4 linked regions of the Homo sapiens genome follow. The gene in region 2 interacts genetically with the main gene of each other region. Each region holds a gene or a part of one and is shown on either strand. Other genes may lie near its edges.

Region 1 (7,862 bases), on a different chromosome or scaffold from region 2:
CCACATGTTTTTATTACATTTTACAAAGTGTGCTCATACTAGGAGGCCAAATAGAGAAAAGGCCAAGAAAAGTAGATGATTGATGTGAACATCTGATCTTATTTGACCAAAGTTGACAAAATATTGATGCCACTGTTTGGTGTTTAAAAGTAAGATTAACTAAAATGCCCCAATTTAAATTTCTAAAATTTAAATCCTCTTCTTGAATTGTTTGTTTGTTGAGATCTCACATTATCAGATCTTTAGTAATTCTGGAAGAATTTGCTAAAGGGTGAAAAGAATATTTTTGTTAAATATTTGGTTAAGTAGGTGGTTTGATTTTTAATCACTATAACTAAAGGGGTTGGGACTTCCAGATTCCCAAAGGATCCTTTTAAACCAAAGTAAAACTGATTTAATAGTTTTACTATTTCACATTTTTGTGAAAAATTCACACTTACAAATTTTCTTTCTACTTGAAATAAATCCAAGGTGGTAACTGGTATCTGTCTATCAAATAAGTTAATAAAAATGTGGGAAACAGAGACACATGTTTATGACAGAAATTAAGATACAACCTTGATATTTGTTGCTGAATTTCAGTGTGTTACCCTCTCATGTAACTGAAGTTTCTTTTTAAGTAAAGGCTCACTTTTTTCTTTTTGTGAAACAGAGTTTTCATAGTAGACCTATCTTTGTGGTCAACAGGTATCTGAGGTTGATAAATGTAGAGGCTACATTTTATGATGCCAAACCACAATGACATACCATAGAACATGATAAAAATTTTTTGACAAAACTGCTTCTAGTAAAAATAAATCATGTAGAAGCACAGATGGTTGATGGTAAAATATGTAATAGCTTTCAGAACAATGCATAGATGGTGACTATATAGGAAAACAAAGGAATTTAGAGAAAAAATATATATATATACCAGGAAATGCACTCATAGGACACTTTGGAATAAAAGTGGTAGTGTTTGAGAATGATGAATGATTTGCCTATCATTTCAAATGTGCATTATTAATCTAAAAGTCATTTTAGGCATTTGGCATACAGACAGATTTTCTTCACATTTACACCAATTGGGGTTACATCTCTAATAATATGTTGTATTTTATAGTGTAAGGTAGTCTTAATGGTAAAGCTTCAGAAGAGAGCTAGCATATTTTCTTGGCATGTGACAATAATCTGCACTGTCCCCAGGGCTCCGTGGATTAGCCCATCTCCTGAATACTACACTGAATACTCCAGGCTTTAGACTGCAAGTCATTTCTTTTTCTTTGCTGCTGCTCGTAGAAAATTGGAACCTTGTGAGGCTGAGGAAATCTGTTTGACTTTTGTGTTCCATAACATGGATAAATCAGGTCCTTGGAATGATCAGCCTCTGATAGATTGTCCCAGAAGACTACAAATTAAATAAAGACTAAAGAAGTAATTGGCTGTAGAGTGGAGTGTGGATTTATTCCTAGGTCTGAATAAGGCATTGTGTGGCATCCAGAGAGAGGCAGGACAGAGGAAGCAGTGAGAGAGAAGCAATTCTAGAAAATGTGGATACCTTGCTGCTCAGTGTGGCTTATAGACAGTAGCACATGCATCCCCCGGAGCTTTGTAGAGATGCTAAAGCTCAGCTCCCACCCCAGAGCTACTGAGTCAGAATATGTGGTTTGTGTGCACGTTAAAGTTAGCGATGCTGGCTACCATCCTTGGTTCCTGGTGGCATCTTTTAGGAAGAGTTGCTACCTGGGATGGATTCTGCATTGTCCCCTTCCAGTGGCCTTAAAGATCTATAGTGTTACTTGGAATACCGAGTATTTCCCAGGTGTCCACTATTGTGATCTGACTTTAGGAAGACATAAATTGGATGAAGGAGAGATAGCAAGCAGGTAGATCAACTATAAGCCCAGTCTTCTCATGAATATTTTTCGTAGTAGTTATATAGTTTATATTGGCATCACTGGTCCCATTAAAAAGTAAGATAGCTTTTCTTCAATTAAAGGCAAGAGAATTAGCTCTTTTAATAGCTCTGTTAGTTATTATTTTATCCCCTCATAACACAGTTTAAATTCTGTAAATGACTTTAGTGACCTTGCAGCTTCTTTAAGACAAAGGGACTCTTGCAGGCAAGGGATTGAGTTTTGGGCAGGTGATGGAGAGTGACCCTCTAAACTGGGAACTGTGACGACATTCAGCTTCATGTCTTAGGAGAGAGTGAGATAGGAGCCACTAGAAGAATGAGATGATTCAGACAAGAGATTGTAGGAGATTGGCTTTATTCTGTTGACAAGATGGTAATCCGACTTATTTTTTGGTTTTTTGGTGTTGGTGGTTTAGGAAGACAGGAACTTCTCCACACCCGGTAGAGTTCAGCTGCCTTTTCATTAGTCAGCAAGCAGTTTTTCCTTTCTCAAGGCAGTCCACATCCAGCAAAACATTTGATTAACTGGAAAGCAATACCATTCTCATGCCAGTGTACAAATTACATGAAAGAGCATCATTTTTCTAGTGTCTGAGGATTGGCTGCTTATGGCCAATTTTGGCAGCAAGACGATAGGATTAAAAATAGCTTGAAGATGATCTAGTCTTAAATAATATATTTCATGATGAACTTTCCTTGGGAAAGTGCATCTTTCTGCCTACAAGAATCACATGACCCCTTTCAATAATTTATGTAGTAGAGAAAAACACACTATTTCTCATAGAGTTTTCAGTCATGTGCTGTGGTGTGATTGTTTCTGGACATTCATAAAATTTTATAGTTAACTGAATTCTCTTTTCTGTTTTGTTGCTATTTAACGTCCATTGAAAACATGGCTTTCTTTTGCGCATTCTGTTACTTTCAGCTGTACTTTCTAATAAGAATGGATTGCCCTTTTTAGCAATCTTTGATTGAACTGGTACATTTCAGATTACTTAAATGTCATCAGGCCACACAGCATACCAGGTAACAGAAAGCCATAAATTAAAAATAAAAAAAAGGCAAGCAAAATTCTTGTTGTTTTTTCTTATCTCTGTTCCCAGTCCTATTGCGCTATTTGGAGGGATGATACGCCCACTCATGAGCGAGTGTGTGGGTGCTGCATGTTAACAGTGGTTCTTCCCACCCAACATACCTCCGCACCCTTTTCTAAGGTCACTCATTGTGTCTTAGCAGTAGTTTAGCAAAGCAGTATCTCAGCAGAAGTGCATTTGTGCTAGAAAACAACACTGTCTTTGTAGTGTACAAGTAGAACGTTTTCTTTTTCCCCCAGAGATATATTGTATTTGAGATTCAAAGGTTCTGTTCAACCTTTTTAAGGTAATCTAATATCACCTTATTCAGGTATAACAGTAACTTGTCAATCTGGTCATCCTTTCTGTCAACCACATGTAGGAGACCACTCAGTGAATTTACTCCACTGTGAATTTTCTCTTTCATCCCTCTTGGTTTGGCTTAATCAACCTTAATGTTTGATGTCTAAGCAGGATTAATGATGAAAATCATCCAAGGACTGACAGTTATTCCACAGATGTGATTGCCAGTCTTACATGAGTCCTGCCTTGGGTTAGGTTGGAGGCACGGCAAGGAGAGCTTTGCTTCTGCCCTGGATAAACTCACAGGCTAGTGTTGCAGGCATCTTAATAAACTCGTAGTTATCATACAGCCTGATAAGCATGATCCTAGACTCAGAGACTTAGAGGAAAAAAGCAAATAACTATAAGTTATTTTGCATGTACTTCAGCCTTGGTCTAAGAACGTTATTTCTGACCATATGGCTGTTCATGTGTGCATTAGGCCTAATTTAAACAGGGCCAAAATGTAGATACTTTAAAAAATACTGTGTAACGTAGACATATGCTTAAGAGAACTGAAAGGCAGGGGGAGTTCCCTTGTTAAATATTAACCCACTAAGCACTATTTATGCATACTAAGAAGACTTAATAAACACCAGTCTACAATTTCTAAAGCATTTCATTAATTCTTTTTAAGTAAAAGACAATCAAGGCTCCGATTAGACTGACTGGAACAGGGTAATTTGAAGAACTATCTTTCTTAAATAACTCTTGTATGCCAAAAAATACAAGTAGGTTTTGAACCAGAGCGGGGGCTCTTCCTTTGAGCAGGGGAAAAAAAAGCTTCTGTTTTGTTTTGGTTTGAGGTTATATTACTGTTCTATTTATCAAGACACTTCTACGATGCTAGTTACAGAAATTCACAGTCCATTGTAACACTGGCATTTGCCTTCGGACTTTTTTGGGCTTGTGGTCTGTTCGTTTAAATGGAGACTGTAAAACTTTCAAAATGCCAACAAAGCTGTTTTCACTTAAAAACATATTTTTATAGATTGTCACTTGTTGTTCTTATATATGCCCAATTCTGTATATGCTATAGCACTATTTCTCTGCCCTCCATTTGCCAGACAAAAGATACACCCATCTGTCCTTCAGTGTGAATAAGGATTGAATGATTATTCCTCTCTCTTCCAAGCCATGGGACTTTCTCATAGGTGCCACCACCCCTGTGACCATCCCCTACCTGCCTTATCATTCCACCGGTGAGGGACCTCTCAGGTGTAGCTCCTTGTTAACTTCCAATTAGTGATGGGTAGGATTTACCTGAAGAAAACCGTAATGCGCTTAGATACTAGCAAAAGGGAGCAGAAGTGGGGAGTCTAATCAAAGTGAGAGGATAACCCTCACCCCAAACTTGCTGCAGGCAGCTGGGCAGGTCAAAATTCTGTGACCAGACACTATCCTTTTCCTCTAGTGATTATAAACTTTAACCTGTGCAGAGAAAAGATAGTATCTGCTGGCAAAATTTGTACTTACTTTGATTCCTCTAGTGCAAGATTATAGTGGGGTTATACCTGAGACTTCAATAAATGTTTGACTAACTAAACTAAAATAGCTTAGGGTAAGGACTACTTCCCCAAACGCCCTTTTAAACATGTGAGAAAGGGAATCTCCCTGACATACTGGTATGGCCATTTGTAGCAATATACTGAGAGTGACTTGGGTGATTTTCTGGGGCGATCAACCACATTCCATGAGCAGGTTAACTGTGGAAGACACCTGCCCTTGAGCATCGCGTTTGGGCCACATGCGTCAATGGGGAAATTTGTGTTTCCATTCTGCTTCTTGTTTTGCCTTCACAACTTCAGGGATAGAAGCGTATTCCATTTTTAGTTAATAATCAGCTCTCTGGGGCTTCCATGTAATGAGTCAGAAACTGATGACTGACTCCACTCTGCTCATTATCATGTCTCCCAAAAACAACCCGAGAACCCACTGTGTCAAGTGAAGCTTTAATTTTTCAGGGGAGGTTTTCTCCATTGAGACCAATACATCTTTTCTTGTGACAGATCCAGTTACCATATTTCCTTATTTTTAACTGTCGAAAAGACAGTTAAGCTGCAACAGAGTATGGTGAGTTTACCAATTTTAATACTTGAAGCACCAAACAAAGGATCAGTGTTGCAGGCTGTCTCTTCTTGACTTTTTCCAGCTCTCCTTAGCAGATAACCAGGATGATATTTTTTCTGCTTTACAACATGATGAATGCTATATCTCTATATTAACTCTGAAATTGAATTGCAGCCAAATATTCCTCTCAGCTGCATTAGAATTTTCTAAAAGAACATGAGACACATAAACTTAGTCTTCTTAGTTCAATGCTATATCTCAGATATATTGATATCTGATTTACAATTAAAATAGGAATAAAATTAAGTACAAATTATATCATCAGCTTTAAATATTGATTTATCTTCTTGAAAAAAAAAAAGCGAGTCCATAAAGGATGGCAGCATTGGCATTTCTGGATGTAAAATTTCAGGGCTATCTCCTAGCCATATCCTTTATGGATTCCTGCCAGCATCTTTAAAAACACACACACTGAAGACACACAGAGAGGTTTTGAGGTATTTTATAACAAAATTATAAGAACAGGGAGACAAAGCCACTTACTAAACATTAAAGTGATAGTATAAGAAGAAAATGATTTGAAGAAGTCCTAATTGAGGGAAATGAGCAATTGTCCACAAAACTTAACCCTGGGTTCCCAGGAACCGGGGTAGTGATGGTCATGGAGAGGGGTTTTAGAATCTGGTTATTTAGGAAAACATGCACACTAACTTGTTTCATTGAAAAAAACATTTATTGAGGCCCTACACCATGCAAAGCTCTATGCTAGGTGTTTTAGTTAAGCGAAAAAATGTCTAAGATAACTTTTGCCTTCAAGGAACTTACCAATCAGTAGGAGACCAAGACAAGGATACAAATCACTGTAATCCTGGACAATGTGTAGTAGACAGAGAGGCCCAACCCAGCTACAGTGGTATCTGAAGAGTTTCATGCCGGAGATAATGTTGAGACAAGTTTTAGAGAACAGGCAGGCGATACGGGGAGAGGGTCTTTCAGGTAGTGGAAACTGGAGGCGTCAAAGCAGGCATGAATGCGGGAGGTGTGTTTGGGGAATTGTGGAGAGTCTGATTTGACTGGGGCATGGAGAACTCTCCTGAGATAAATCCATAGTTTTGAGAACTTACCACTGCATACTAAGTTGTGAAACTTGTATAGACAGCCCTCCCTATCTTTGGGTTCCACATCCATGGATTCAACCAACTTTGGATCAAAAATATATGGGGTAGGGCAGGCACAGTGGCTTAGGCCTGTAATCCCAGCACTGTGGGAGCTCAAGGTGGGTGGATCACTTGAAGTCAGGAGTTCAAGTCCAGCCTGGCCAACATGGTGAAACCCTTTCTCTACTAAAAATAGAAAAATTAGCCAGGTGTGGTGGTGGGCGCCTGTAATCCCAGCTACTCGGGAGGCTGAGGCAGGAGAATTGCTTGAACCCAGGAGGCGGAGGTTGCAGTGAGCCGAGATCGTGTCACTGCACTCCAGCCTAGGGGACAGAGCGAGACTCTGTCTCAAAAAATAAATAAATAAACAAACAAATAAATAAAATAAAGTATATAGGAGGATGTGCATATGCAAGTACTACTCATTTAATATCAGGGACTTGAGCATCTTCAGATTTTGGTATCCACTGGGGGTTCCTAGAGCCAATCCCCTGAGGTTACTGAAGGATGGCTGCGTTTAACTGTACCAGGGATGTTGAAAGGATGTTGCAAAGGTTCTCAGACAAGGCAGGATGTGTGCGTGGGAGGAAGATTGACAGTGACTGAGCCTGGACGGGGGAGACCAGGTATGAGGTCTGAAGCACCTGGAACAGAAAGGACAGGACAGATGTGGGCACACTGCACGTGTAGAATCAAAGGACTGACAGCAGGTCGAATGTGAGGAATGAGGGAGGGAAAGAATCAGGACTCAAGTGCCATCCTGGCTGCCTCAAAAAATGATACTGTCTTCCAGAGGGAAAGGAAAGATAACAACAGTTACTGCTTTGTGGCGTACATGTGATGAATTTCATTTTGGACATTCCAGTAGGATATCCAAGTGGAAATGCCCAGTAAGCCTTAGACATAAGGATCTGGATCTCAAGAGAAAAATTGAGGTTGAACCATAATATGTCTTTCCCCTCGAATCATGTAGGTTTCTCTTTTGCCTTCTTTCATTGCCCTAAGTGGTCCTAAATGCTACTGCTGATGCTGTCTTAGTTTGCGACTGTTGTTTGCACCCCACCTTTTCCCAAAGGTAATCTGTAGACTTGCATGGATTGGGTTAAGGTGGTTAACCTGCAGCTTTGCTGTTCAAAGCTTGGCTTCCCACTACCAGTTTGCCAACTTAATGAGTACTTCAACTTGAGTCAAATTAGTATTGTTCCAAATATCCTAATAGTATCCTCTATGTGTGACTCTAGGTCTTACAAAATCAAGGTGTCCTTTCTCATTGAGACTTCCTTATTAATAAAATATTTCTTCTATTAAATTCAACCTGGCACC
Region 2 (7,671 bases):
CTGTGTGCAGTGCACTGTGTGATGATCTACAGAGATTAAATAAGCCGAGGTCTCCGCTTCCAGTCACTTGGGAGAGACGCACAAGGTAAATTACCCAAATAGAAGGCAAACTGCCCAGGGCTGTAATTAACATACAATATGCGCCGAGAGGGAAAGGTTAATGCTAACTCCGGTCCTAAGTACAAAGATCATTGGGAGTCAGGGGTGCACTCTCATTAGGGTACAGCATGGGTGGGTGGAGAGAGTAAAAACCAGAACAAATCAAGGTTCAGCAGTTGGAAGTCAGCCTTAGGGAGAAAAGGGGCGGAGACTGACTGGGCCAGAACAGGGATTGGGACAGAAAAAGAGGGTGGGGCCAGTGGGCTCCACCTACCCGCTCCGGCCCTTCCCACCACCCCCCACCCCATCTACTTTCTACAGTCTGTGGAGACAGGTGAGCGACGAACTTCTGAGACAGGTGTGGGTGCGAGGGTCGGGAGGGTCATGGGATTGGGACCGAGGTGTGAGGAGGGAATCTGCAATTCCTTGCTACACAGAGCGCTGGCAACTTCTGACAGGCTGTTTCTGGGGTATGGGCTGCCTCGGGTTGTTGCTGTTACAAGGAAAGAAAAGAGTTCCCCTGCCCACCGCCTCCCAGCCACTGGGCTACCTCCTGGCAGGAAATTTGCAAACTGAGTTTAACAAGTTAGGATCAGCAGAGGGTAGAGGAGGGCCCTGGCAGATGTGGGGTCTAGAAGAGGACAGGAGTTATCAGGGCCTCCGGCCATTGTGCTGGGCCTTTGCCTGTACAATTGTTTCTCAAGCAGTTGTGTCCCTGTGGCTTTGGTGCGCCTGTGTGCACTTTCTCCCTCCACCTGGAGCATGGGCTAACACCGGAGGAAAGGAAAAGACAGAGTCAGACAGGGTAAGTGGGGCTCCCTCCCCTCTTCTCTCTAACGGGGCTGGATTGAGGGCCTCTGGCTGGGGAGGTGGGGGTGGAGATCCAGTAGGAGCAATAACAGAGGAAGGGCAGGGCCTGCCCCATCACCTGAATTCCAGAGATGCCAGTGTGCACTGAAGCCCCAGGCAGGGCGTGCCCAGGACCGGATCCTGGATGGTGGTAAGGGACAAAGCTGGAAGGGAGACTACAGGGAAGGAGAAAGGAAAGAAGGCAGAGCCATGACACAGTCAACTTACAGAATGGCTGGGAGTCAAAGCTCCTGGGCTGGTTTCCTGGCTATTCCACACACTCCAAGACATAGAGAGAATTTCGGAACTGGAGGGGACTCTACAGATGATTTATTTGAGATTGAAGAACCTAGAAACCAAACAAAGAAATATCATATGGTTACTTTGGTATCTGACACAGCCATGACACCAATTGCTAGTGTAGACACAATAGCTGTGTGTCTTTTTGCAGGAGCCTGGGGAGGGGCCATGGTGCCAATGCACTTACTGGGGAGACTGGAGAAGCCGCTTCTCCTCCTGTGCTGCGCCTCCTTCCTACTGGGGCTGGCTTTGCTGGGCATAAAGACGGACATCACCCCCGTTGCTTATTTCTTTCTCACATTGGGTGGCTTCTTCTTGTTTGCCTATCTCCTGGTCCGGTTTCTGGAATGGGGGCTTCGGTCCCAGCTCCAATCAATGCAGACTGAGAGCCCAGGGCCCTCAGGCAATGCACGGTGAGTTAAGGGTGGGCATCGTAAGAGGAATACACCTTGGGCCCATCCTCCCTCTCTCCCTGTAGTCTCTGAGGCAGAGAGTCTCTGGTTTCCTGTCATTGGCATCAGCGGGAGGAGGGGTCAGAGGCCAACAGAGGATCTTTTGCCCACAGCAGACAAAAAAAAGGGAAAAAGGGCTTCTTTCATGGAAGCCACCAATGGCCTTATTTCTCTTCCCTCAGGGACAATGAAGCCTTTGAAGTGCCAGTCTATGAAGAGGCCGTGGTGGGACTAGAATCCCAGTGCCGCCCCCAAGAGTTGGACCAACCACCCCCCTACAGCACTGTTGTGATACCCCCAGCACCTGAGGAGGAACAACCTAGCCATCCAGAGGGGTCCAGGAGAGCCAAACTGGAACAGAGGCGAATGGCCTCAGAGGGGTCCATGGCCCAGGAAGGAAGCCCTGGAAGAGCTCCAATCAACCTTCGGCTTCGGGGACCACGGGCTGTGTCCACTGCTCCTGATCTGCAGAGCTTGGCGGCAGTCCCCACATTAGAGCCTCTGACTCCACCCCCTGCCTATGATGTCTGCTTTGGTCACCCTGATGATGATAGTGTTTTTTATGAGGACAACTGGGCACCCCCTTAAATGACTCTCCCAAGATTTCTCTTCTCTCCACACCAGACCTCGTTCATTTGACTAACATTTTCCAGCGCCTACTATGTGTCAGAAACAAGTGTTTCTGCCTGGACATCATAAATGGGGACTTGGACCCTGAGGAGAGTCAGGCCACGGTAAGCCCTTCCCAGCTGAGATATGGGTGGCATAATTTGAGTCTTCTGGCAACATTTGGTGACCTACCCCATATCCAATATTTCCAGCGTTAGATTGAGGATGAGGTAGGGAGGTGATCCAGAGAAGGCGGAGAAGGAAGAAGTAACCTCTGAGTGGCGGCTATTGCTTCTGTTCCAGGTGCTGTTCGAGCTGTTAGAACCCTTAGGCTTGACAGCTTTGTGAGTTATTATTGAAAAATGAGGATTCCAAGAGTCAGAGGAGTTTGATAATGTGCACGAGGGCACACTGCTAGTAAATAACATTAAAATAACTGGAATGAACTCCTGATCCCAAAGCCTATTGTGTTTTCAACACAAGGTAATAGGAAGCCAAGCAACTTGCATGTCTCCCAATCCCTGTCTAGGGACAGCTGCTGGTGCAGGATGGAAGACTTCCTATAAACAGAATGGGCGACCAATTGTGTCTACAGAGGGGGTGGGCTGAGCATGGGCACGCATGTCCCCAGCCTCCTGGACGAGCAAAGTCAGTCAAAGCGCTGGTGATCCCTGCTCCGCGTGCGTAGCAGTGTCTGTGCCTCTCCTGCCCAGGGGCTAGAGAGCAGTCTCCAGTGCAGGGTCCCCATCCTATCTGAAAACAGTGGAGTCAGTGACCCCAGGTGGAGGGACTTCCAGTTTTAACAATGGGTTGGTATGAAGGCCAGAAGGAGTGAAACATGTGAACTTTCTGGCGAGGAGACTCCCTCTTGAATCATCCATATGTAGCCCCGGGGTCACTTGCGAAGAGTCTCTAACAGCTTCTGCCTCACTCCTAAGCTCTGACCGCTAGGCTTTCACCCCAGCCGCCGGTCCTGATTCCTGAGATCCCAATATTGAGCACCAGGTTTCCTGGAATTGTGTGCTGCGGCTGTGATGTAGGTTTCGGTCGCTGGAAGCTGCTAAACCATAGCTGACGCCCCCTCCTAAGCCAGCCTTCCTTCCCCGCGCGGGCATCTGTCCAGGGCCTTGTCGCGCTCTCAGTCTCCTTCGCAGCCTGGCCCCAACCGTTCAACTTCAATAAAGCAAAACTCCAGCCACGCCCGTCTCCGTGAAGTTATCGCCATAGGCCGGCCAGGGGGCGCGAGAGGCACCGGGGTGATTTCCGCGGGAATCGATAACCAATCGGATTCCCAGGCCGAACGGAGCACACCCGCCCGCCCTCGCTCTTTCCCCGCCCTTTGCCCCGCCCCGCTCCTTCCCCTCCTTTTGTCTGTCCGCCGAGCACCCCACTTCACCCCATTGGACCGCGCGGCCGCCGCTAGAGCTCTGCGCCTGCGCACGCACCGGGCCGGGGACTGGGTGGCCTGGTGTGTGGGCGCGGCAGGGCGCAGGCGCAGGCGCAGTGTGCGTCCGCGTCTGAGGGGAGGGATGTGGGGGAAGCGACGGCCCCCGGTTTGTTTGGGCTGTGGGCGGTGCGCAGCGGAGAGCCCGGGAAAAGCGGGAAATGGCGGCGCCGAGCGCGGGGTCTTGGTCCACCTTCCAGCACAAGGAGCTGATGGCCGCTGACAGGGGACGCAGGTAAGTAGGGAACGGTCTTAGGGCTCCTTAGGGGAGCCCAGGGAAGGGGAGCGTGGCCCCCAGGCGTGCGGCCCTGCAGCCCCCTCCCCTCGGAGCCCCGGAAAGCAGCCGTGTCCGCGCTTCCTGCCAAGGGTGGGACGCCCGCCCGAGCCGCTCCGAGCCTGACTCCGCGCAAGGGCCCGCGGGCGGACCTCTTGGCCTTGTCTCTCGTGGGAAAAGACTGCCCCAGCCTCCCTTTGTTCAACCCACGAGGGTTCTAAAGGGGAGGTCTTTGCAGTCCTGCCCGCTCTTGGGTTCTCTTGAAGATTCTTCATCCTTTCCTCTGGCTCCCTTATGAGGGAAACTATAAAAAGACCATACTCTGTCTCCTTAAAAATCGACGAGACCTTCTGCAGACCTCGGTGCTCTGCCTGATGTGCATTTGATTTGTATCGATTGTATCATGATCTGCATGGCTTTGCATAGAATGACCAGATTTTCAAAGAAGTCAATACAGGGTTTGGAAATTGAGTACTTTTGGCAGAACAAGGGGGTTCCTGTGGCTCCGAGTGTCCATGCCTCTGCCCCGGTCATTCCATTTCATGGCAGTCATCACCCAGGAGAACATTGTAATGCCTCCTGCTCGAGACTGAAGATTAAGGTCTTCGCAAAGGGAACCTGCAGAAGGACACAGAATTAAGACGTAGGAACTCCGTGGTGCCCTTCGCCCCTCCTCCCCTTCCAGTTGTGTCCTGAAATTCTAAATGATTGGAAACTTTTATAATGTTCACGTTTAAGACTCTCATACTACAGAGTAGAGGAAGGAGCGGGTGTGCAGAGGGGGTGATGCTTCAGATTAAAACTAAAGAGTTGATTGAAAATTCAAGTCTGGAACTCGAGAGAGTTAAGAACTATAAGTCAGTAAGTTGCAAGTATGGGTGAGATTGTCTAGGGAAAGGCTCTTTGAAGGGGCGTCCCTAATGGAATATCAATATTAAGGGCAGGCCAAAGGCCCTCTAAAGAAAACAGGAACTGGGTAGGCAGAGAGAAGACTCCCAAAGAATGCTGTCATGGAAACCAGAGGAAGAGAACGATTTAAGGAGCGAATACTACTGGTAAACTAATGGAAGAAATCTGCTGCACCACTGGTTAGTATCCCAGCTGCAGTGTTATATGTGATCGTTATTACTGCTTTGACGTATTCGAAAGTGATTCATTCTTAAATAGGTTTTTTTATTTGTATAGCTCTTTTTCTTGTAGCCAGTTTTTCCTGAAAGTCTTGGGTAATGGAAATATTACAGTAAAAAGAAGAAAAAATGGAGTTTCAGACTCATTTTTCCAAACCTCAGATTCATTGGCTGCTTCCAACCCACTTCATCTGTTTTAGGATCCCACCTGCTATCTTAGTTCTCCCAGTTCTTCCAGGACCCAGCTCTTCCCTCTTCTAACTATAAATCTCTCACCCAATAGCATCTGCAAGCCAAGTGCATCCATTCCATAGATGTGTGGTATTTCACTGACTCTAAGATACACATTTTTTCCCTCCCTTTTTTTTTTTTTTTTTTTTTTTGGACGGAGTCTTTGCTGTGTCACCCAGGCTGGAGTGCAGTGGAATGATCTCAGCTCACTGCAACCTCCATCTCCAAGGTTCAAGCGATTCTCCTGTCTCAGCCTCCCGAGTAGCTAGGACTACAGGCATGCAGCACCACACTCGGCTAATTTTTTGTATTTTTAGTAGAGACAGGGTTTCACCATGTTGGCCAGGCTGGTCTTGAACTCCTGACCTCAGGTGATCTGCCCACCTTAGCCTCCCAAAGTGCAGGGATTACAGGCATGAGCCACCGTGCCCGGCCTCCCCTCATGTTTTAACACCTTAGAAATCAGAATGCATTTTAGAGTAGGTTTTTAAGTTATAAATGGAAGTTATTGTATTTTCACTGCTATCAGGTGCCACCCTTCCTGCTGTTACATATGTGGAAAATGTGACGGGGCAGGCTAGAGAACTCTGGATTTATGTAAACTAGGCATGTAGATGACATATTGGCAATAGGATTATTTTAGTTTATAAGCAGAAGCTGATCTCTTTGCAAGCCTGTAGCAAAATTAGCTGGAGGTGACAGCACATGCCTGTAGTCCCAACTACTTGGGAGGCTGAGGCAGGTGGATCGCTTGAGTCCAGGAGTTCTGGGCTATAGTGTGCTATGCCAGTCACGTGTCCACATTAAGTTCAGCATCAGTGTGGTGATGTCCTGGGAGTCAGGGTCCACCAGGTTGCCTAAGGAAGGGTGAACCCGCCCAGGTCAAAAATGGAGCAAGTCAAAACTCCTGTGCTGCTCTGTAATGGGATCATACCTGTGAATAGCCACTGCACTCCAGCCTGGGTGGCACAGTGAGACTCTTTTAAAGTAAATAGATAAATACCTATCCACTGTGACTTTCTGTCATACTTTCTGCTTATCCACATCTTAACAGGATTCGCCATTTTGTCACTGGAACTTAAAAGTTTTAAAAAACATGTAATTATATGTTTATATCACTAGTGAAAGAGAGTTAGTGTCTGCCTCATTTATTTTCTGTTAAAGCCATTGGCTTGAGTTTTTACCATAGTGTTTTAACCCTCATCTAAGATCATTATAAACTTACATCACTTTCACCAGCTTAGATAATGTGAGATGTTTTCTGAAATAATTCTCTTTATTAAAATTGGTCTATCAGAGAAGTATTCCTTCTCATAAATATGTGTACTTGGGGGTATTGTTTTGCTTAAGACAGATATTTCCCTCCTCTAGTCAGACCATTCATCTCAGATGATCTCAGCTGAACATAAACCATAAGGAATTAGACATTATTTTCTTATGATCAATGTGTTCCTGCTTAGTACATCTTTGCTTTAACCAGATTTAAGAAATATGCATAATCTTGGTTATTGTAAGTCTTATTCTTTTTGTTCTTCCTATTCATGCCTCTTCCACTCCACTCTTCTGTGTCAAATTGTGACTTGACAGCCTTTCCTTCTACCGTTTATCTGTAGGATATTGGGAGTGTGTGGCATGCATCCTCATCATCAGGAAACTCTAAAAAAGAACCGAGTGGTGCTAGCCAAACAGCTGTTGTTGAGCGAATTGTTAGAACATCTTCTGGAGAAGGACATCATCACCTTGGAAATGAGGGAGCTCATCCAGGTATCTGGAGGCAAAAGAGAGAAGATAAATTGATCATGGGGTGGGAATAGAGCATGACAAAATATGGAAAGGGTGTCGTATCTTTCTTCCTTTTTTTTTTTTTTTTTTTTGAGACAGAGTCTCTGTCTCCCAGGCTGGAGTACAATGGCGCGATCTTGGCTCACTGCAGCCTCTGCCTCCCAGGTTCAAGTGATTCTCCTGCCTCAGCCTCCCAAGTAGCTGGGACTACAGGCAGGTGCCACCATGCCTGGCTAATTTTTTGGATTTTTAGTAGAGACAGGGTTTCACTGTGTTAGCCAGGAGGGTGTCGATCTCCTGACCTCATGATCCACCTGCCTCGGCCTCCCAAAGTGCTGGGATTACAGGTGTGAGCCACCACACCCAGCTGGATGTTGTACCTTTCTAAAGAAATGGAAATGCCCTTCTACCGTAGAGCATTTGAGAGAAATGATATATAACTCAAGAATAACAGAAAGGACTTCACCCATACATACACTTTTCCTGTAAAAAGAATTCTTGGAT
Region 3 (7,862 bases), on a different chromosome or scaffold from region 2:
TGTGTGTGCGTGTGTGTGCATGCATGCATAAACGAAGGCCTCCTGGAGGAAATTATACCTAAAACTGGGTACAAAAGAATGAATTAGGAGTTTACTAGGAGAAGGAGGCCTTGGGGGATAAGGGCAATGGGAGAAAAGTGTTTTAGGCAAAGGAAACAGCATAAACAAGCTCCAAGGAGAGAGACAGAACGTGGCCTACAAGTGCACAGGCAAAGCTTGGGCACAGAATTTGAGAAAATAGCATGAGATGAGGCTACAAAAGGGTGCCTGATCATGAAAGATTAGGCGAGCCACGTAAAGGAGTTTGGACTTGATCCCAAGGGTCCTGGGAGGCAGTGAAGGGTTTTAAACTAGAGACAGATATGATCACATCTATGTCTCAGAAAGGTTTCTCTGGCTAGGGGGTAGAGGAAAGGATTGTTTAATCTCTTTCTTCTTAAAAAGTACCCTCTTGGGCATAATAAAAACTATAGGCTCAAACATGGAATGCATCAGAGATAAGAAGATAAAGCACTTACCCTTAAGAAGCTTGGTCTAATGGGCAGGGCAGAAACCAGTCCCAAAATAGTGTAAAAAGCAAAATGCTCAGCCAGGCCTGGTGGCTCACGCCTGTAATCCCAGCACTTTGGGAGGCTGAGGCGGGCAGATCATTTGAGGTCAGGAGTTCAAGACTAGCCTGGCCAACATGGTGAAACCCCATCTCTACTAAAAATACACACAAAAAAAATTAGCTGGGTGTGGTGGCGCATGCCTGTAATCCCAGCTACTCGGGAGGCTGAGGCAGCAGAATCGCTTGAACCTGAGAGATAGAGGTTGCAGTGAGCTGAGATTGTGTGCCACTGCACTCCAGCCTGGGCGACAGAGCGAGACCCTGTCTCAAGAAAAACAAAACAAAACAAAATAAAACAAAACAAAACTCTACCAGCACCAGGAGTAGATAAGAAGGAGCTCCTAACTCTGCTGTGGGTGCGGGAGAAAACTTGAAAGAAGTGACTTCTGAGCTGAACCTTGAAACATGAGTTCACAAAGTAGATTCAGGGAGTTGGGGGTAGAGTGGGGAATGGGACTAGGTATACAGATAGAGAAAACGTACTCAAGGCAGAGGAAAAAATACAAGTAAAGAAACGGCACTATAAGCTGATTTATATTATAAGAAAGCATCAACACCAAAAAAAGTCAGAATGAAGTGTGTATTTCATGCCAAAAAAATCAAAAGGAGAACAAGTAATTTCCACATTACTTTTAGATGTAATGCTACAACGAGTTAAAAACAAACAAACAGGCTGGGCGCGGTGGCTCACGCCTATAATCCCAGCTCTCAGGGAGGCAGAGGCGGGAGGATAGCTTGAGCCCAGGAGTTCGAGACCTGCCTGAGCAATATAGTGAGACCCCGTTCTCCACAAAAAGGAAGAAACAAACAAACAAACAAAGCAACAACAATACTGACACCTAGAGTAGTCAAATTTATAGAGACAAAAAGTAAAATGGTAGTTGCCAGGGGTTGGGAAGAGAGGGAATGGGGAGTTGTTTAATGAACATGTTTTTATTATTATTATTATTTTTTAAAGATAGGGTCTTGCTCTGTATCCCAGGCTGGAGAGCAGTGGTGCAATCACAGCTCATTGCAGCCTTGAGCTCCTGGTCTCAAGCAATCCTCCTGCCTCAGCCTCCCAAGCAGCTGGAACTACAGGCGTGTGCCACCACGCCTGGCTGTTTAATGGATGTAGAGTTTCGGTTTTGCAAGATGAAGAGTTCTGGAGGTTGACTGTGCAACAATGTAAATGTACTTAACACTACGGAACCATACACTAAAAATGGTTAAGATGGTAAACTGTATGTGTATTTTATCACAATTTTTTAAAATCTAAAAAAAACAAAAAACAAAACAAAAAAAAAAACTGAAACAAACCCCAAAACACTGGACCAGAAGTCAGGAAATCTGAATTCTATTCCCAACTATCGGCGTGATCCTAGGCAACAGCCCATCTGTACTTCAGGTTCCCAATTAAGGTCATAAAAGTTATAAAATGGGCTGGGTGCAGTGGTTCATGCCTGTAATCCCAGCACTTTATGAGGCCGAGGCGGGCAGATCACCTGAGGTTGGAAGTTGGAGACCGGCCTGACCAACATGGAGAAACCCCGTCTCTACTAAAAATACAAAATTAACAGGGTGTGGTGGCACATGCCTATAATCCCAGCTACTCAGGAGGCTGAGGCAGGAGAATTGCTTGAACCCGGGAGGTGGAGGTTGCAGTGAGCCAAGATTGCACCATTGCATTCCAGCCTGGGCAACAAAAGTGAAACTCCGTCTCCAAAAAAAAAAAAAAAAAAAAAAAATTATAAAATAATCTTTAAGGTTCCTTTGGTTCTGATTGTTTGTGATACCATATCATCTCATTTTTTTCTATATTATTTCATCCTTGTATAAAGCCACTAACTTGAGATGGTGATATTCTGGGCATAGATCTTTTCCCCTCAGACCAGTAGTTTACCACTGGCAATTACTTCCCTCTTGGCTTAAAGGTAACTACTGGATTCTACATACTTCTCTACAGCGCCTTTCCCCTTCTCCTCCCCACAAAGCCCTCTTCTAGGTCAGAAGGTTACTGGCACATGAGCAATAAAGGCTAGATAACTTTTGATGTTATTTGCTAATATTTGTAATTATTTAAAACCTCTTCTAGAATAAACTGATGTTATTCATTTTACTATTAGAGCAGATTCATATGGAAAGACAGATAAGAAATGAATATGGGTTATTTGATTTTTATATTATATACAGTAATATATATACACATAAAGATTAAAATAAGTACTTTAGTACATATACTAAATAAAGGGCTTTATCTTACACTACATAATTTTTTCAAAGAAAGAAAAAAAGATACTGATTCGGTACTATTTTTACAAGACCTTTTACTAGGGCATTCTCTGTTACACAGCCATTGGCAAAAAAGTTTAGCACTAAATCTAGGATTTCTCAGTAAGTGACAATGTTATATTTTCTCTAATAACCCTCACCTGCTTCACTTCAGTTAGCCCCATCCTTATTTTATATAAAATTAAAAGATTCTTAGTGCCAGTCTTTCCTCATCAGCTTTTGGGAAGACAAATAGGCAGCAGTCCCAGCATGAGTAGAGAGCCTGTATCAATTACTTGCCTCTCAATTTAGTGAGACTGAGGAGAGTTCAAATGAATTCCAACCCTTAGGCTCTCCTTCCCACACCATCCTAGTTTGTAGTCTCAGTGATAATATGAGCGCCCATTGACTCCTGTTAGATAGAGAAAAGACACTCTCCCTAATGCACAGTCTCTTGATCTCTTCCTATTACAACCTGCTAAACCCTTCTGCTGCAGATACATTAAGGTTTGAAAACTAACAATTTATGGCCAAACAATTAAGCGCGTGTTTAAGATGCAGGAAAAAAATGACACAATTGCTTGTGTTTCTGTTATAGTAGAAAAATTCCAGCCCGGCCAACTTGGCGAAACCCTGTCTCTACTGAAAATACAAAAAATTAGCCGGGCGTGGTGGCACATGCCTGTAATTCCAGCTACTCGGGAGGGTGAGGCAGGAGAATCGCTTGAGCTGGGGAGGCGGAGGTTGCAGTGAGCCAAGATCGTGCCATTGCACTCCAGCCTGGGCGACAGAGTGAGACTCCGTCTTAAAACAAATAAAAAATTAAAAAAAGAAAGAAAGATGACAATTAAAGGGTTTATTTTACCACCACCAAGATAAGTGGAGCTTGTGTAAGTTTTAAATAAATGCATCTATAAGGAAAAAATTGGAAGCTTTCCATTGATTCTTACATCAATGAATATAATTTTAAATATCATTAATGTTCATACTGTTTCATAACTTATACGATTATCTGAATAGTGTTTCAAAAGCACTTGAAATATCTTAAAGATCAAAAGGATCTTAAATGCGTCAAAAATAAGTAAACGTTTAAGTTTTTTTAGCAGTAGGAGAATTCTCATCTTTTTGGAGGGAGGATGGTCAAGAGCTTAGAGAACTATTACAGGTAAAGTACCCAAAAGTGTACTCAGTTTGAAACTTCTTCTTTAACCTTCGATGTTGTTGGCAAGCACTACAGTGTCCATCATCCTTAAAGGAGAGATACATATATTTTGAGACAAGATCTTGCTCAGTTGCCCAGGCCGAAGTGTAGTGGCATGATCATGGCTCACTGCAGCCTTGACCTCCCTGGCTCAGGTGATCTTCCCCGCTCAGCCTCCCAAGGAGCTGGGACTACAGGCACACACCACCATGCCCGGCTAATTTTTGTATTTTTTGTAGAGACAGTTTCATTATGTTGTCCAGGCTGGTAGAACTCATATTTTTAATCTTTTTTCCATGATTAATGTAATGATATTTGGAAATGAGGCCTTTGGGAAGTAATTAGGTTTAGATGAGGTCATGAAGATGAGACCCCCCCATGATGGGATTAGTGTTCCTAAAAGTAGAGGAAAAGAGACCAGAGTACTTGCTCCATCTTGTCCCATCCAATCCCAACCCATGCCATGTGAGGACACAGTGAGAAGGCAGCCATCTGCAAGGTAGGAAGAGGGCCCTCATCAATAACCAAATCAGCCAGCACCTTGATTTTGGAGCCTCCAAAACTGTCAGAAATAAGTCTGTTGTTTAAGACACCTAGTCTATGGAATTTTATTATAGCAGCTTGAGCAGACTAACACACAGCATTAAGGTTACGTTTAAAAAATGTCCATATCCACCTGTCCCAGCCTCCCAAAGTGCTGGGATTACAGGTATGAGCCACCACATCTGGCCCTTTCTTGCTTTTTAAAAACAGCAATGCATACCTTTCTGTAATGAAGTCTGACTTGACTCATCTTGCATACTGTCTTTCTGAGCATTCACTAGATCTGCAACCAGAACCTCAAGTGATTTATAGTTGCTCCCAGATATCTGAATTTTTTCCTCCATTATTTTCTTAATGTCCTTGAAACTGAACCCCATTCGTATAGCTTCTTGTACCATAGGATTTTGGAAGATGGTATCATCTGAAATAAAAATTGGTGAGGAAAAAGAACATAGAATTTAAACAATTATTTTCATTATCACAACTCAATAGCAAAATATAGTTAAAATGAAAAAATTAAGGAGCAAGCGAAAGAATAAAAACAAACCAGCAAAGCAAAGCTGCTTTGGGAAGATTTTTTGAAGTATTCAGGCACTGAAAAATCACTTTCAGAATCTTACAATTAATTGTAAATGCAATGAGTATGTATTTTGTAGTGTTTGAAACGATGCAAGGTAAAATAGGCAAGAAAAAGGTTAAGTGCTTCAAAAATCTGAACTGTTTTGAATCTAGCTGTACTCATTAACAATTAACCTAAGTTACTTAAAGAGTGGATGTTGTTACTGAGTCACTAGCAATTATTTGGGGAAAATGATGGGAAATCAGGGAAGTCCCAGTCTATAACCTTGAATGTGTCAATTTCCTAGCTCTCAAACTTCGTTTCTGTAGCAGAGCGGGTAGGACTGAATAAAGCAAGAAAGTCAATGGAAACTTGTTTTTATGATACTTAAAGTAGGAACACAGCATGTGTAGGGAAGTGCTAGGAGAGGACACTTATACCCTCTGACTCATCAATTCCACTCTTGGGTATTAAAAATGAGTGTATATCTCTGCCAAAGATATGCACAAGAGTATTCATAGTAGTGTTATTTATAATAGCCCCAAACTGGAAACAACTCAAATGTCCATCATCAGGTGAACAGATACATAAATTGTGGTATATTCATACGCTACACAGCAAGAAAAAAAAAAAAAACTATTGCCACAGACAATATGGATGGATCTCATAGATATAATGAGCAAAACATAATCATAATTCATCATTATGACACAAAAGAGTACCTACTGCATGAGTCCATTTATAAGAACTTCAAAACTAATCTATGGTAATAAACAAAATTAATCTATGGTAATAGAAGCCAGAATATAACTTGGGGGTGGGTACTGATGGGGAAGGAGCATGAAAGAACTTTCTAGGGTTGTGGGAATGTTCTATATCTTAATCTGGGGGATAGTCACACAGATAAATATATATATTTTAACATATACATTTTAATATATATTTAACACATATTTAATATATATTTTAACATATATATGTTAAAATTCATCAAGTAGAAAACTTACGATTAGGGTACTTTAAGCACTTTATGTGTGTATGTGTGCGTGTGTATATATATACAAAATCATATATATATACAAAATCATATATATACAAAATCATATATATATACAAAATCATATATATATACAAAATCATATATATATACACAATCATATATATATAAAATCATATATATATAAAATCATATATATATATATATATATATTTTTTTTTTTTTTTTTTTTTTTTTTGAGACGTAGTCTCGCTCTGTCACCCAGGCCGGAGTGTAATGGCGCGTCTCGGCTCACTGCAACCTCCACCTCCCAGGTTCAAGCAATTCTCTTGCCTCAGCCTCTCGAGTAGCTGGGATTACAGGCATGCACCACCACGCCTGGCTAATTTTTTTGTATATTTAGTAGAGATGGGGTTTCACTATATTGGCCAGGCTGCTCTCGAACTCCTGACCTCGTGATCCACCTGCCTCAACTTCCCAAAGTGCTGGGATTACAGGCGTGAGCCACTGCGCCCGGCTACTGTATGTATATTATAGCTCAATAAATGTTTTTTGAAAGAGAGGAGGCTGGGTGCAGTGGCTCACACCTGTAATCCCAGCACTTTGGGGAGGCCAAGGGGGATTCCTTGAGGCCTGGAGTTTGAAACCACCCTGGTCAACAAAGTGTGACCCTATCTATATTAAAAAATAAAAATAAAAGATAAGGCTGGGCATGGTGGCCCACGTCTGTAGTCCCAGCATTTCGGGAGGCTAAGACGGGCAGATCGCTTGAGCCTAGGAGTTCAAAACCCCGTCTCTGCAAAAAATACCAAAAAATAAAAAAAAAAATTACCCGGGCATAGTGGTGGGCGCCTGTAGTCCCGGCTACTCAGGAGGCTGAGGCAGGAGAATGGCGTGACCCCCGGAGGTGGAGGTTGCGGTGAGCCGAGATCGCGCCACTGCACTCCAGCCTCGGTGACGGAGCGAGACTCCGTCTCAGAAAAACAAAAAAACAAAACAAACAAAAACAAACAAACAAAAAGAAAAACTCTGTTGGCAGGTTATAATACAGACAAAAGACCAGTTAGGAGACTACTACAATTGTCCAGTTGAAAAACAAGGAAGGGCCTGAACTAGAGCAGAATAAGTGGGAAAGTCTGAAGCAACATTAAAAAGGTGGAATCCATCAAATTTGATGATTAATTAAATGTAAAAGGATTACAGAGAGCAAAGAGCTTAGGAACAACATAAATTACTGGGCAACCTTGTGAACTGTGGTACTATTAACCAATACAGGAGAAAAAAGTGCAGGATTAGATTCAGTCTGAGTGGTTTTTAGAGATGCATTCTAGGTGGAAATGTCCAGAGGGCAACTAGACATTGCTCTTTCCTGCTTCTCCTATCTTTGACTTGTTTTTATTTTCAGTTTGTTTTGTTGCTCCATTACTTGTGCCCACCTAATTAGATGTTGGTGGCTCCCTTCCATTCCCTCATCGACCCTTCTGAAAAATGGTCTTTCCAGCTGGGCACAGTGGCTCACGCCTGTAATCCCACCACTTTGGGAGGCTGAGGTGGATCACCTGAGGTCAGGAGTTCAAGACCAGCCTGGCCAACATGGCGAAACCCTGTCTCTACTAAAAATACAAAAATTAGCCGGGCGCAGTGGCATGTGCCTGTAGTCCCAGCTACTGGGGAGGCTGATGCAGGAGAATCGCTTGAACCC
Region 4 (7,773 bases), on a different chromosome or scaffold from region 2:
TGGGGATCACTGGAGGCTAGGTGTTCGAGACCAGCCTGGGCAACATAACAAGATCCCCATCTCTACAAAAAAAAATTTGAAAATTAGCCAGGCTTGGTGGCACTCACATGTAATTTCAGCTGCTCAAGAGACTGAGGCAGGAGGATCACTTGAGCCCAGGAATTTGAAGCTGCAGTTATCTATCACACTACTGCATTCCAGCCTGGGTGACGGGGCAAGACCCTCTTAAAAAACAAATAAATACTCTGACCTATGTCTTGTCTCCTGTACAGGAGAGGAAGGAATGCTACACAGAGGCCAAGAAGAATCTGGACTGGCCTTGCTGGGTTGGCTAATTTAAAAATTTTTTTGTAGAGACAGGGTCTCACTTTGTTGCCCAGGCTGATCTTGAACTCCTGACCTTAAGCAACCCATCCCCCACCCGCAAAGTATTGAGATTACAGGGTGTGAACTGCCACTTTGTTTTTCTTTTGTTATAGGAATGTCAGTCACAGAACCTTCTGATGGGTGAGGAAAGGCATCACACCTTTCCCCCACACCCTACAGCAGCTAGAGCCGTGCTTATGTCTGTCTCTTCCACTAGAATGAATGCTTGTAAAGGCAAAGGTTTTGTTTGAAGAAGTCCCCAGTGCCCAGGACTATGTCTGTGTAGAGCAGAGCTCAGTAAACACTTGCCAAGTGGCTGTGTCTCCCACTAGAATGTCAGCTCCTGAGGGCAGAGACTGTGTCTGTCCTGTTCACATGCAGCCCCAGTGCCCAGCACACAGCATGTACCCAGTAAAACCCTGTCACCGTACAGGTGGATAAATTCAGGCCCAGAAGGAAGGAAGGACTTGTCCAAGGCCCTCCCCTGAGGGCAGCAGAGCCAGGACCAGTACCCAGCTCTCCAGCGGCCCCTCCTTTCCCCATCCCGGAGCACACAAGAGCCCAGGCTCTTTGTTCACTGAGTAAACACAGTTTATTACTGAACTGCACTTTCACCTTCACACAGACTATTTCAAAGAGCTGGAACAAGTGTGGGGTGGGGGTTGGGGGAGGGGCAGATGCCCCTCAGGAGCCAGGACCCTCGGCCAGCTTCCCTGGACCAGGGCAGGGGAGGGAGCATCAGGCCGTCCAATCTCCGGGCACCAGCTCTCCACGTGCACGCGCACTGCAAGCCAGCAGCTCCTCACACATAAATACAGACACGCTTAACAAAAATAGTATATCATCTTCACAAGGAATAAAAACTAGTCTCAAATATGTACAGCAGAGAGCCCGGGGTGGCTGGGACCCCTGGGGATGAGACAGGCCAAGGGTGGAGCAGAAGAGAGAGGGAGGCCTGAAGAGCTCCTGGCCAGGCCACTCTGGCCTTGGCAGCCTGGCTGCCCAGGCTGGACAGGCATGGGGCACAGATCTGCCTGGCCAGGCAGGACTGGCCCTTCTAGTCAGCCCTACCCCACCCCATGCAGCAGGCTCTCCTTCCTGCCCTTCCTGCCTGAGGTAGGGAAGACCCTGGGGCTCCCATAGCTGTTCCTGATAGCTCCCTTTCACCTCAGGGCTGAGTCCCCTGAACCCACCATGAGGAGCAGCCCAAGGCAAAGATGCCACAGGCTGCTCTTGTAGGAAGTGAGGCAGCTGAGGCCATAAACAGCTCTGGGGCATCTGTCTTGGGCCCAGTTGGTCCCTCAGTATGGTCATGGGAGCCAGGGAGGGGAAGGGACTAGGGTGGTGCTGAACTGCAAGGGCCACCCTAGCTTTGGCATGGGGTGCTTCCTGTAGCTATAGCCCCCTCCCTCCTGGGTGGGGCTGGCCTCTAGCCAGAGGCTTCTGGAGGACATTTGGACTGGGAGTGAGGACTCTAGCCAGTCCAGAGGTGAGGAGGGAGTCCTGGTCCTTGCATCTTTATCCCAAGCAGCCTGAATCCCTAGTCAAAAGTGGCCCCTAAATGGCTCTTAGGGGGTAGGGATGGAAGGAAAGGGAACCCAGGTTAGTGTGGGGAGAGTGGGGGGAAAATGATCAATTCTGAGGCCACAAACATCAAAACAAAGGCAATCTAGTCTCCTTTCTGGGGAAGAGGTTCTGAAAACTTTCAAGCTCCCTGGCAGAAAAACATTTTCAGGGAGGCTAAGGGGTAAGGGTTGCACCAATCAGGTAGGGCCCTCCTGCCCCCAGCCACAAACCCTTCCATACCTGCCAGCCTCCTTTGGACAGATTTTGTGGAAATTTTGTGAATTCTGAGGCCAAGGGAACTGAGGTGTGGGGGTCTCACAGAAGTGTGATAAATTCTAGAAAACTAGCTGCAAGGGACCAGATCTGGGCCCAACCCTGTGATGGGCAGGTGGGCATGGGCTGCATGTAGTGGTTCTCCTGGTGGCAATGGCGGCTGGACGGAGGATGTGGTGGAGCAGAGAAGGGGGTGGGAGGGTAGAGTGGATGGTCAGTGTCTGGTCATTTCCGACTGAAGAGTGAGCCCAGCAGAACCACGCCGGCCACAGTCATGCCCGTCAGGAACCAGCGGTTGAAGCGTTCCTGGCCCTTTCGGCTCTCGGCTGCTGCATTGTTCCCATAGAGTTCCACAAAAGTATCCTGCAGGGAGAGAGAAGGAAGGTGCAGTTTTAGTCCTCAGAGAGTGATGTAGGTGGGTGGGGAAAGGGGCCATCTGCATGCTATGGCCTTGGTGATGTGAAAAACTGTAGCCATCTGTGCCCACTCTGGGCCAGGTAAAGGGCTAAGGGTGGTCCTCTTTCTTGACCCTCCATTGGTGATAATCAAACCATGTTACTGCTGAGAAACAGGTAGAGAGGAGGAAAGTGCCCTGTCTGAGGTAAGTCAAGAAGTAGCACTTACTCCAGAATCCAAGGTGGGAACGAGATGGGCAGGGTCAGGGAACTGATGGAAGCCAGGTGGCTGGAGCAGAGTGCAGGAGAGGAGGGCATGGGGGAGATGATGGTGCAGGGGTGAGCAAGAGCCAGACCATACGTGGCCTGGAAGCCGCAAGGAGCCTAGAGTTGAGTCTGAGGGTAGTGTGGAGTGTGGAGCCACTAGGCCTCAGATTTTCTACTGCTGCACCAGAGGGAGGGATAAGGAAGCCCAGGGCTAAATCCCCAGGGTCATTTGAGGCCAATTCAGGGGTAGAATGGGTCCTGGGACTTCAGCCAGAGGCTCCTCCCTCTGGAGGGAGCCTCTGGTGGGCAGGTTGGTGACAAGAAGAGCAGGGCAGAGGAGAGAGGGTAACAATGATGCAGGACTGACAGGCCTCCATCACGGGGTCTGTGAGGCCTTGTCCCGGACATCCTCCACTGCAGGGGGTGTGACTCTGGGCCCAGGAGGTTGTGATCAACAGCCCTCTGCCCTGAATCTAAGTCAGAAGGGAAGCACATGACAGGGGGAAGGAGGAGCTGTGGGCTAAATTACCCAGCCCAGGGTGCAGCAGCCTGTGGGGCAGGGAGAAGGACGCTTAGAACATAACTTTTATGAGTAAGCGTAGTACCCAATTTGTCCTTTAATCCTCCCAACAATTCTGCAATGCAGGCTGTCTCTCCCCATTTACAGGCCAAGAAGCTGTGCCTCTGAGGGTCCAGGGACTGGATCAAGGTCACCCAGCTGTGTCAGTGGTGGAGCCAGAATCTAAAACTGGCATCTGGCACCTAGAAATATGTAAGAAAGAAGTAAGTTCCAGGCTGGGTGCGGTGGCTCATGCCTATAATCCCAGCACTTTGGGAGGCTGAGGTGGGTGGATTGCCTGAGGTCAGGAGTTCGAGACCAGCCTGGCCAACATGGTGAAACCCTGTCTCTACTAAAAATACAAAAATTAGCCGGGTGTGGTGGCACGCACCTGTAATCCCAGTTACTCAGGAGGCTGAGGCACGAGAATTGTTTGAACCCGGGAGACGGAGGTTGCAGTGAGCAGAAATCGCACCACAGCACTCCAGTCTGGGTGACAGAGACTCCGTTCAAAAAAAAAAAAGGAAGTACCATAGTACCGTGTGTGTGTGTGTGTGTGTGTGTGTGTGTAAAATGAATGAGTTACTGGCTGGTTCTTGCCTCTCTACCAAGACCTCTGCCACACTGGGCCTACATTTCCAACCAGTCCCAAATGGCCGAGTGGCTGCTCCCTCAAGACAGGCATGCCATCTCCAGTTGGCCTCAGGTCTCACCTATCAATTTGCTCACTTGTGACCCCTGCCGTGGCCCACTTCCAGTCTTGACAACCCCCTCAGTCCATGCTCCACACAGAGCTTTCTAAGAACACTGGAAGCCCTCCAGCAGCATTCTCCTGCACTTAGAAGGGCAGCATCATTTATTTTTGTATCCCTGGTACCTAGCAAAATGCCATGTGCACTGAGCTGCTAATTTGACTGAAGGAATCCTCAACATTAAGGCAGTAGAGAGCAGTGACCCATGAATCTCAGCCCTTGCAGAAGCACACTCCATTCAGTCACTCCAAGTTCTCAACCTTCCCAGGGCTTCCATCACACCTGAAATAAAGTCCCCACTCCTTACTCTGGCCAGCAAGGTCTAGTGGGATCTGGCTCCAACACTTTCTGGCCTCCTCCCCACCCCTGTCCCCTGAACTTCACTCCAGTCCCACTGGCCTCCTTGCTGTTCCTCCAACGTCTCCTGCCGCAGGAGTCTGCTGTTCCTGCTTGCCTGGAGCACCTGACCCCAGGTCGTCGCCTGCCTCACTCCCTCATTTCACAACCATGACTCCCCTCAAATGTCACCTCCTAGGGGAGGCCTTCCCTGACTGCCTTGTCTAAAACAGTACACCACCCCCGTCTCTCTCTGCCTGTCCCCTTACCTTCCTTGATTTTTCTTCTCAGTTTTTTTTTTTTTTGAGACACAGTTTTATTCTGTCCCCCAGGCTGGAGTGCAGTGGCACAAACTGGGCTCACAGCAACCTTTGCTTCCTGGGTACAAGCGATTCTCCTGAGTAGCTGGGATTACAGACATGTGCCACCATGCCCAGCTAATTTTTATATTTTTAGTAGAGATAAGGTTTTGCCATATTGGCCAGGCTGGTCTCAAACTCCTGACCTCAAGTGATCCGCCCACGGCCTCCCAAAGTGCTGGGATTACAGGCACGAGCCACCATATCTGGCCTTTTTTTTTTTTTTTTTGGAGACAGAGTTTTACCCTTGTTGCCCAGGCTGGAGTACAATGGCGCGATCTCAGCTCACTGCAACCTCCGCCTCCCAGGTTCAAGCGATTCTCCTGCCTCAGCCTCCCAAGTAGCTGGGATTACAGGCGCGTGCCACCACACCTGGCTAATTTTGTATTTTTAGTAGAGACGGGGTTTCTCCACGTTGGGTCAGGCTGGTTTCAAACTCCTGACCTCAGGTGATCTGCTCACCTCGGCCTCCCAAAGTGCTGGGATTACAGGCATGAGCCACCATGCCCAGCCACCATTTTTTTTTTCTTGTTTTTAAAAGATGTGCCCAGACTGACTTTGAACTCCTGGACTCAAGCAATCTTCCTGCCTCAGCCTCCTGATTACAGGAACTACACTACACAGAATGACCACCATGCCAGCTTTTCTTCTCAGTGCTTTATTTTTTAATTTTTAAATTTTTGTGACAGTGTCTCACTCTGTTACTCAGGTTAGACTGTAGTGGCGCAATCATGGCTCACTGCAGCCTTGACCTCCTGGGCTCAGATGATCCTCCTGCCCCAGCCTCCTGAGTAGCTGCCACACTACAGGCACACACCACCATGCCTGGCTAATATTTCTAAATTTTTTGTAGAGACAGGGTCTCACTTTGTTGCCTAGGCTGGTCTCAAACTCCTGGGCTCAAGGGATCCTTCTGCCTCAGCCTCCCAAGTGCTGAGATTACAGGCGTGAGCCACCATGCCCGGCCTCACCACCTCACCACATTTTTCCCCCATTAAGCTGTACTTCTCATAACTAGATTCTGTACTTTGTTTTTGTTGTGATGTGTCTTCCATACTAGATGTGTCTTTTTTTTTTTTTAGACGAAGACTTGCTCTGTCACCTAGGCTGGAGTGCAGTGGTGCAATCTTGGCTCACTGCAACCTCCGCCTCCCGGGTTCAAGCCATTCTCCTGCCTCAGCCCCCCGAGTAGCGCCTGCCACCACGCCTAGCTAATTTTTGTATTTTTAGTAGAGATGGGGTTTCACCATGTTAACCAGGCTGGTCTCAAACTCCTGACCTCAAGTGATCTGCCCTCTTCAGCCCCAAAGTGCTGGGATTATAGGCGTGAGCCACTGCCCTCGGCCTATACTAGATGTGTCTTGATGAGGGCAGAGGTCCTGTCTCGTTCCTATACACCCAGTGCTCAGAACAGTGTCTTGCTCTGTAAATACATGAGAATACATGAGTTAACAAATGTATTGCATGTCTACTACATGTCAGGCATTGGTATCCCATTTCATCTTCATCAGAATCCTGAGATGTAGATTTGAGCCACATTTCACAAATAAGATGCCTGATATTTAAAGCAGGGAACACTCAGCAAACAGATAGCAGAGTCGGGATCAAACTGCAAGACTGCCTAGCTTCAAAGGGAGGGCTGCTATGTCAGGACACTTCCCTGAAGTTGGAGGCTGGAGGGACCTGTCCTGTCAGTAGTGCTGAAAGGATGGATTTCCAGGAGAAGGAATGTGGGAGCAGGGTTGAGGTGGAGGATCTGGGGAAAGGAGGGCACTAGGGCCGTGGCTATGCTTCCCTGTCTCCCTCTCCATCCTAGCTAGCCTCTGCGGGTCTTGGCAGACAAAAATATTCTTACAGGAGGTTTGATTTTGTTGCTCCCAAGTACACCCAGGTGGAGTCACAAAATAGGCTTATCTGTGATGGGGGAGAGTTCCACACTATGAAGAGCATAGGAGAAGGCCCTGGTTATCCCAAGAGGCCAAATGTCTCTCAAGAAACCAGGGACACTGGGGTTGCAGCCAAAATGGGAGAGGCCTGGCTCCCTTGATGGGAACTTTCCTGAAGTAGACGGCTGGCAGCCACAGGAAATTTTCAGCTCTGGGGCTGGGTTGGAGTAAACAGGCGCTGTCCCCACAAGGGCACAAAGCATTCACTGTCCAGAAACAGTCATTCCTGGGTGGAGGGAACATTCTCATTTCAGTGCCATAGAAACATTCTCATTTCACCTGCCCCAGCTTCCACTCATGTGTTCCTGGTCATGACAACCTTCATTTCCATTTCAGCTTCTTTTCCTGGGGAAGGGGAGTAGTATTTCCAAGGGGTGTGGATTCTAAGGATTGCTTTTGCGGAGACAGCATGAGCAAAATGGGGCGTGCTGTTCCAGGGCGGGTGCTGGAGAGGCGGTGGCGTGGGTATATTTAGCCCATGGTTCACACGACACACTTGGAAATAAACAGAGCCATTTTCTCAGCAGGCGGCTGCTCTGGATAAATAAACAGGATTGCAGAGCAGCCCTGGTCTGGAAAAGCAGAGATAAGCCCCTACTGCACCTTGGGTGGCTCCCACTGGTTTTAACCAGGCTGGCATGGTAGGCAGGGGATGAGGTTTAAGAGTGGGTTGTAGGGAGGTCTCTGATGTCACAAAGGTTTCTAGGAGACCCAGGCCCAAGGGCCTGTCTGCATCCTCTGCTTGAGTTAAGAGGAAAGTGGGGTAGCTGACTTCCATGTGGGGGTTTGTAGGGCCACTGGCGACAGGCAATGGCTAATGACCTCCACAGGAGAGTCATGGATTCCTAGCCAGGTAGGCCCATGAAGTCAGCAAGGCCAACCCACCTGCCCATTCTACGTTTCCACTGCTGGTTTGTAGTAGAGCCTACACTAGAAAACTGGGTCTCCTGACTT

The links.
Region 1: of CASP2 (region 2) and BCL2, changing one suppresses a phenotype caused by changing the other (phenotypic suppression), as found in Homo sapiens cells (one study listed by BioGRID).
Region 3: of CASP2 (region 2) and XIAP, changing one suppresses a phenotype caused by changing the other (phenotypic suppression), as found in Homo sapiens cells (one study listed by BioGRID).
Region 4: of CASP2 (region 2) and BCL2L1, changing one suppresses a phenotype caused by changing the other (phenotypic suppression), as found in Homo sapiens cells (one study listed by BioGRID).

What each region holds. Positions count from the first base shown.
Region 1 is NC_000018.10:63,308,908-63,316,769, reverse strand, and holds part of BCL2 (apoptosis regulator Bcl-2), read left to right. Parts: intron 1-7,862. UniProt on the Homo sapiens protein: Suppresses apoptosis in a variety of cell systems including factor-dependent lymphohematopoietic and neural cells. Regulates cell death by controlling the mitochondrial membrane permeability. Appears to function in a feedback loop system with caspases.
Region 2 is NC_000007.14:143,284,542-143,292,212, forward strand, and holds the start of CASP2 (caspase-2 isoform 1 preproprotein), read left to right. Parts: upstream 1-3,809; 5' UTR 3,810-3,914; coding exon 3,915-3,988; intron 3,989-5,046; exon of another isoform or gene 5,047-5,115; intron 5,116-6,079; exon of another isoform or gene 6,080-6,363; intron 6,364-6,998; coding exon 6,999-7,149; intron 7,150-7,671. Other genes in the region: TMEM139 (transmembrane protein 139 precursor), read left to right, coding at 1,417-1,661, 1,883-2,288. UniProt on the Homo sapiens protein: Is a regulator of the cascade of caspases responsible for apoptosis execution. Might function by either activating some proteins required for cell death or inactivating proteins necessary for cell survival.
Region 3 is NC_000023.11:123,897,656-123,905,517, reverse strand, and holds part of XIAP (E3 ubiquitin-protein ligase XIAP), read right to left. Parts: intron 5,026-7,862; coding exon 4,825-5,025; intron 1-4,824.
Region 4 is NC_000020.11:31,663,519-31,671,291, forward strand, and holds the end of BCL2L1 (bcl-2-like protein 1), read right to left. Parts: intron 7,673-7,773; exon of another isoform or gene 7,587-7,672; intron 3,630-7,586; exon of another isoform or gene 3,473-3,629; intron 2,569-3,472; coding exon 2,431-2,568; 3' UTR 940-2,430; downstream 1-939. UniProt on the Homo sapiens protein: Potent inhibitor of cell death. Inhibits activation of caspases. Appears to regulate cell death by blocking the voltage-dependent anion channel (VDAC) by binding to it and preventing the release of the caspase activator, CYC1, from the mitochondrial membrane.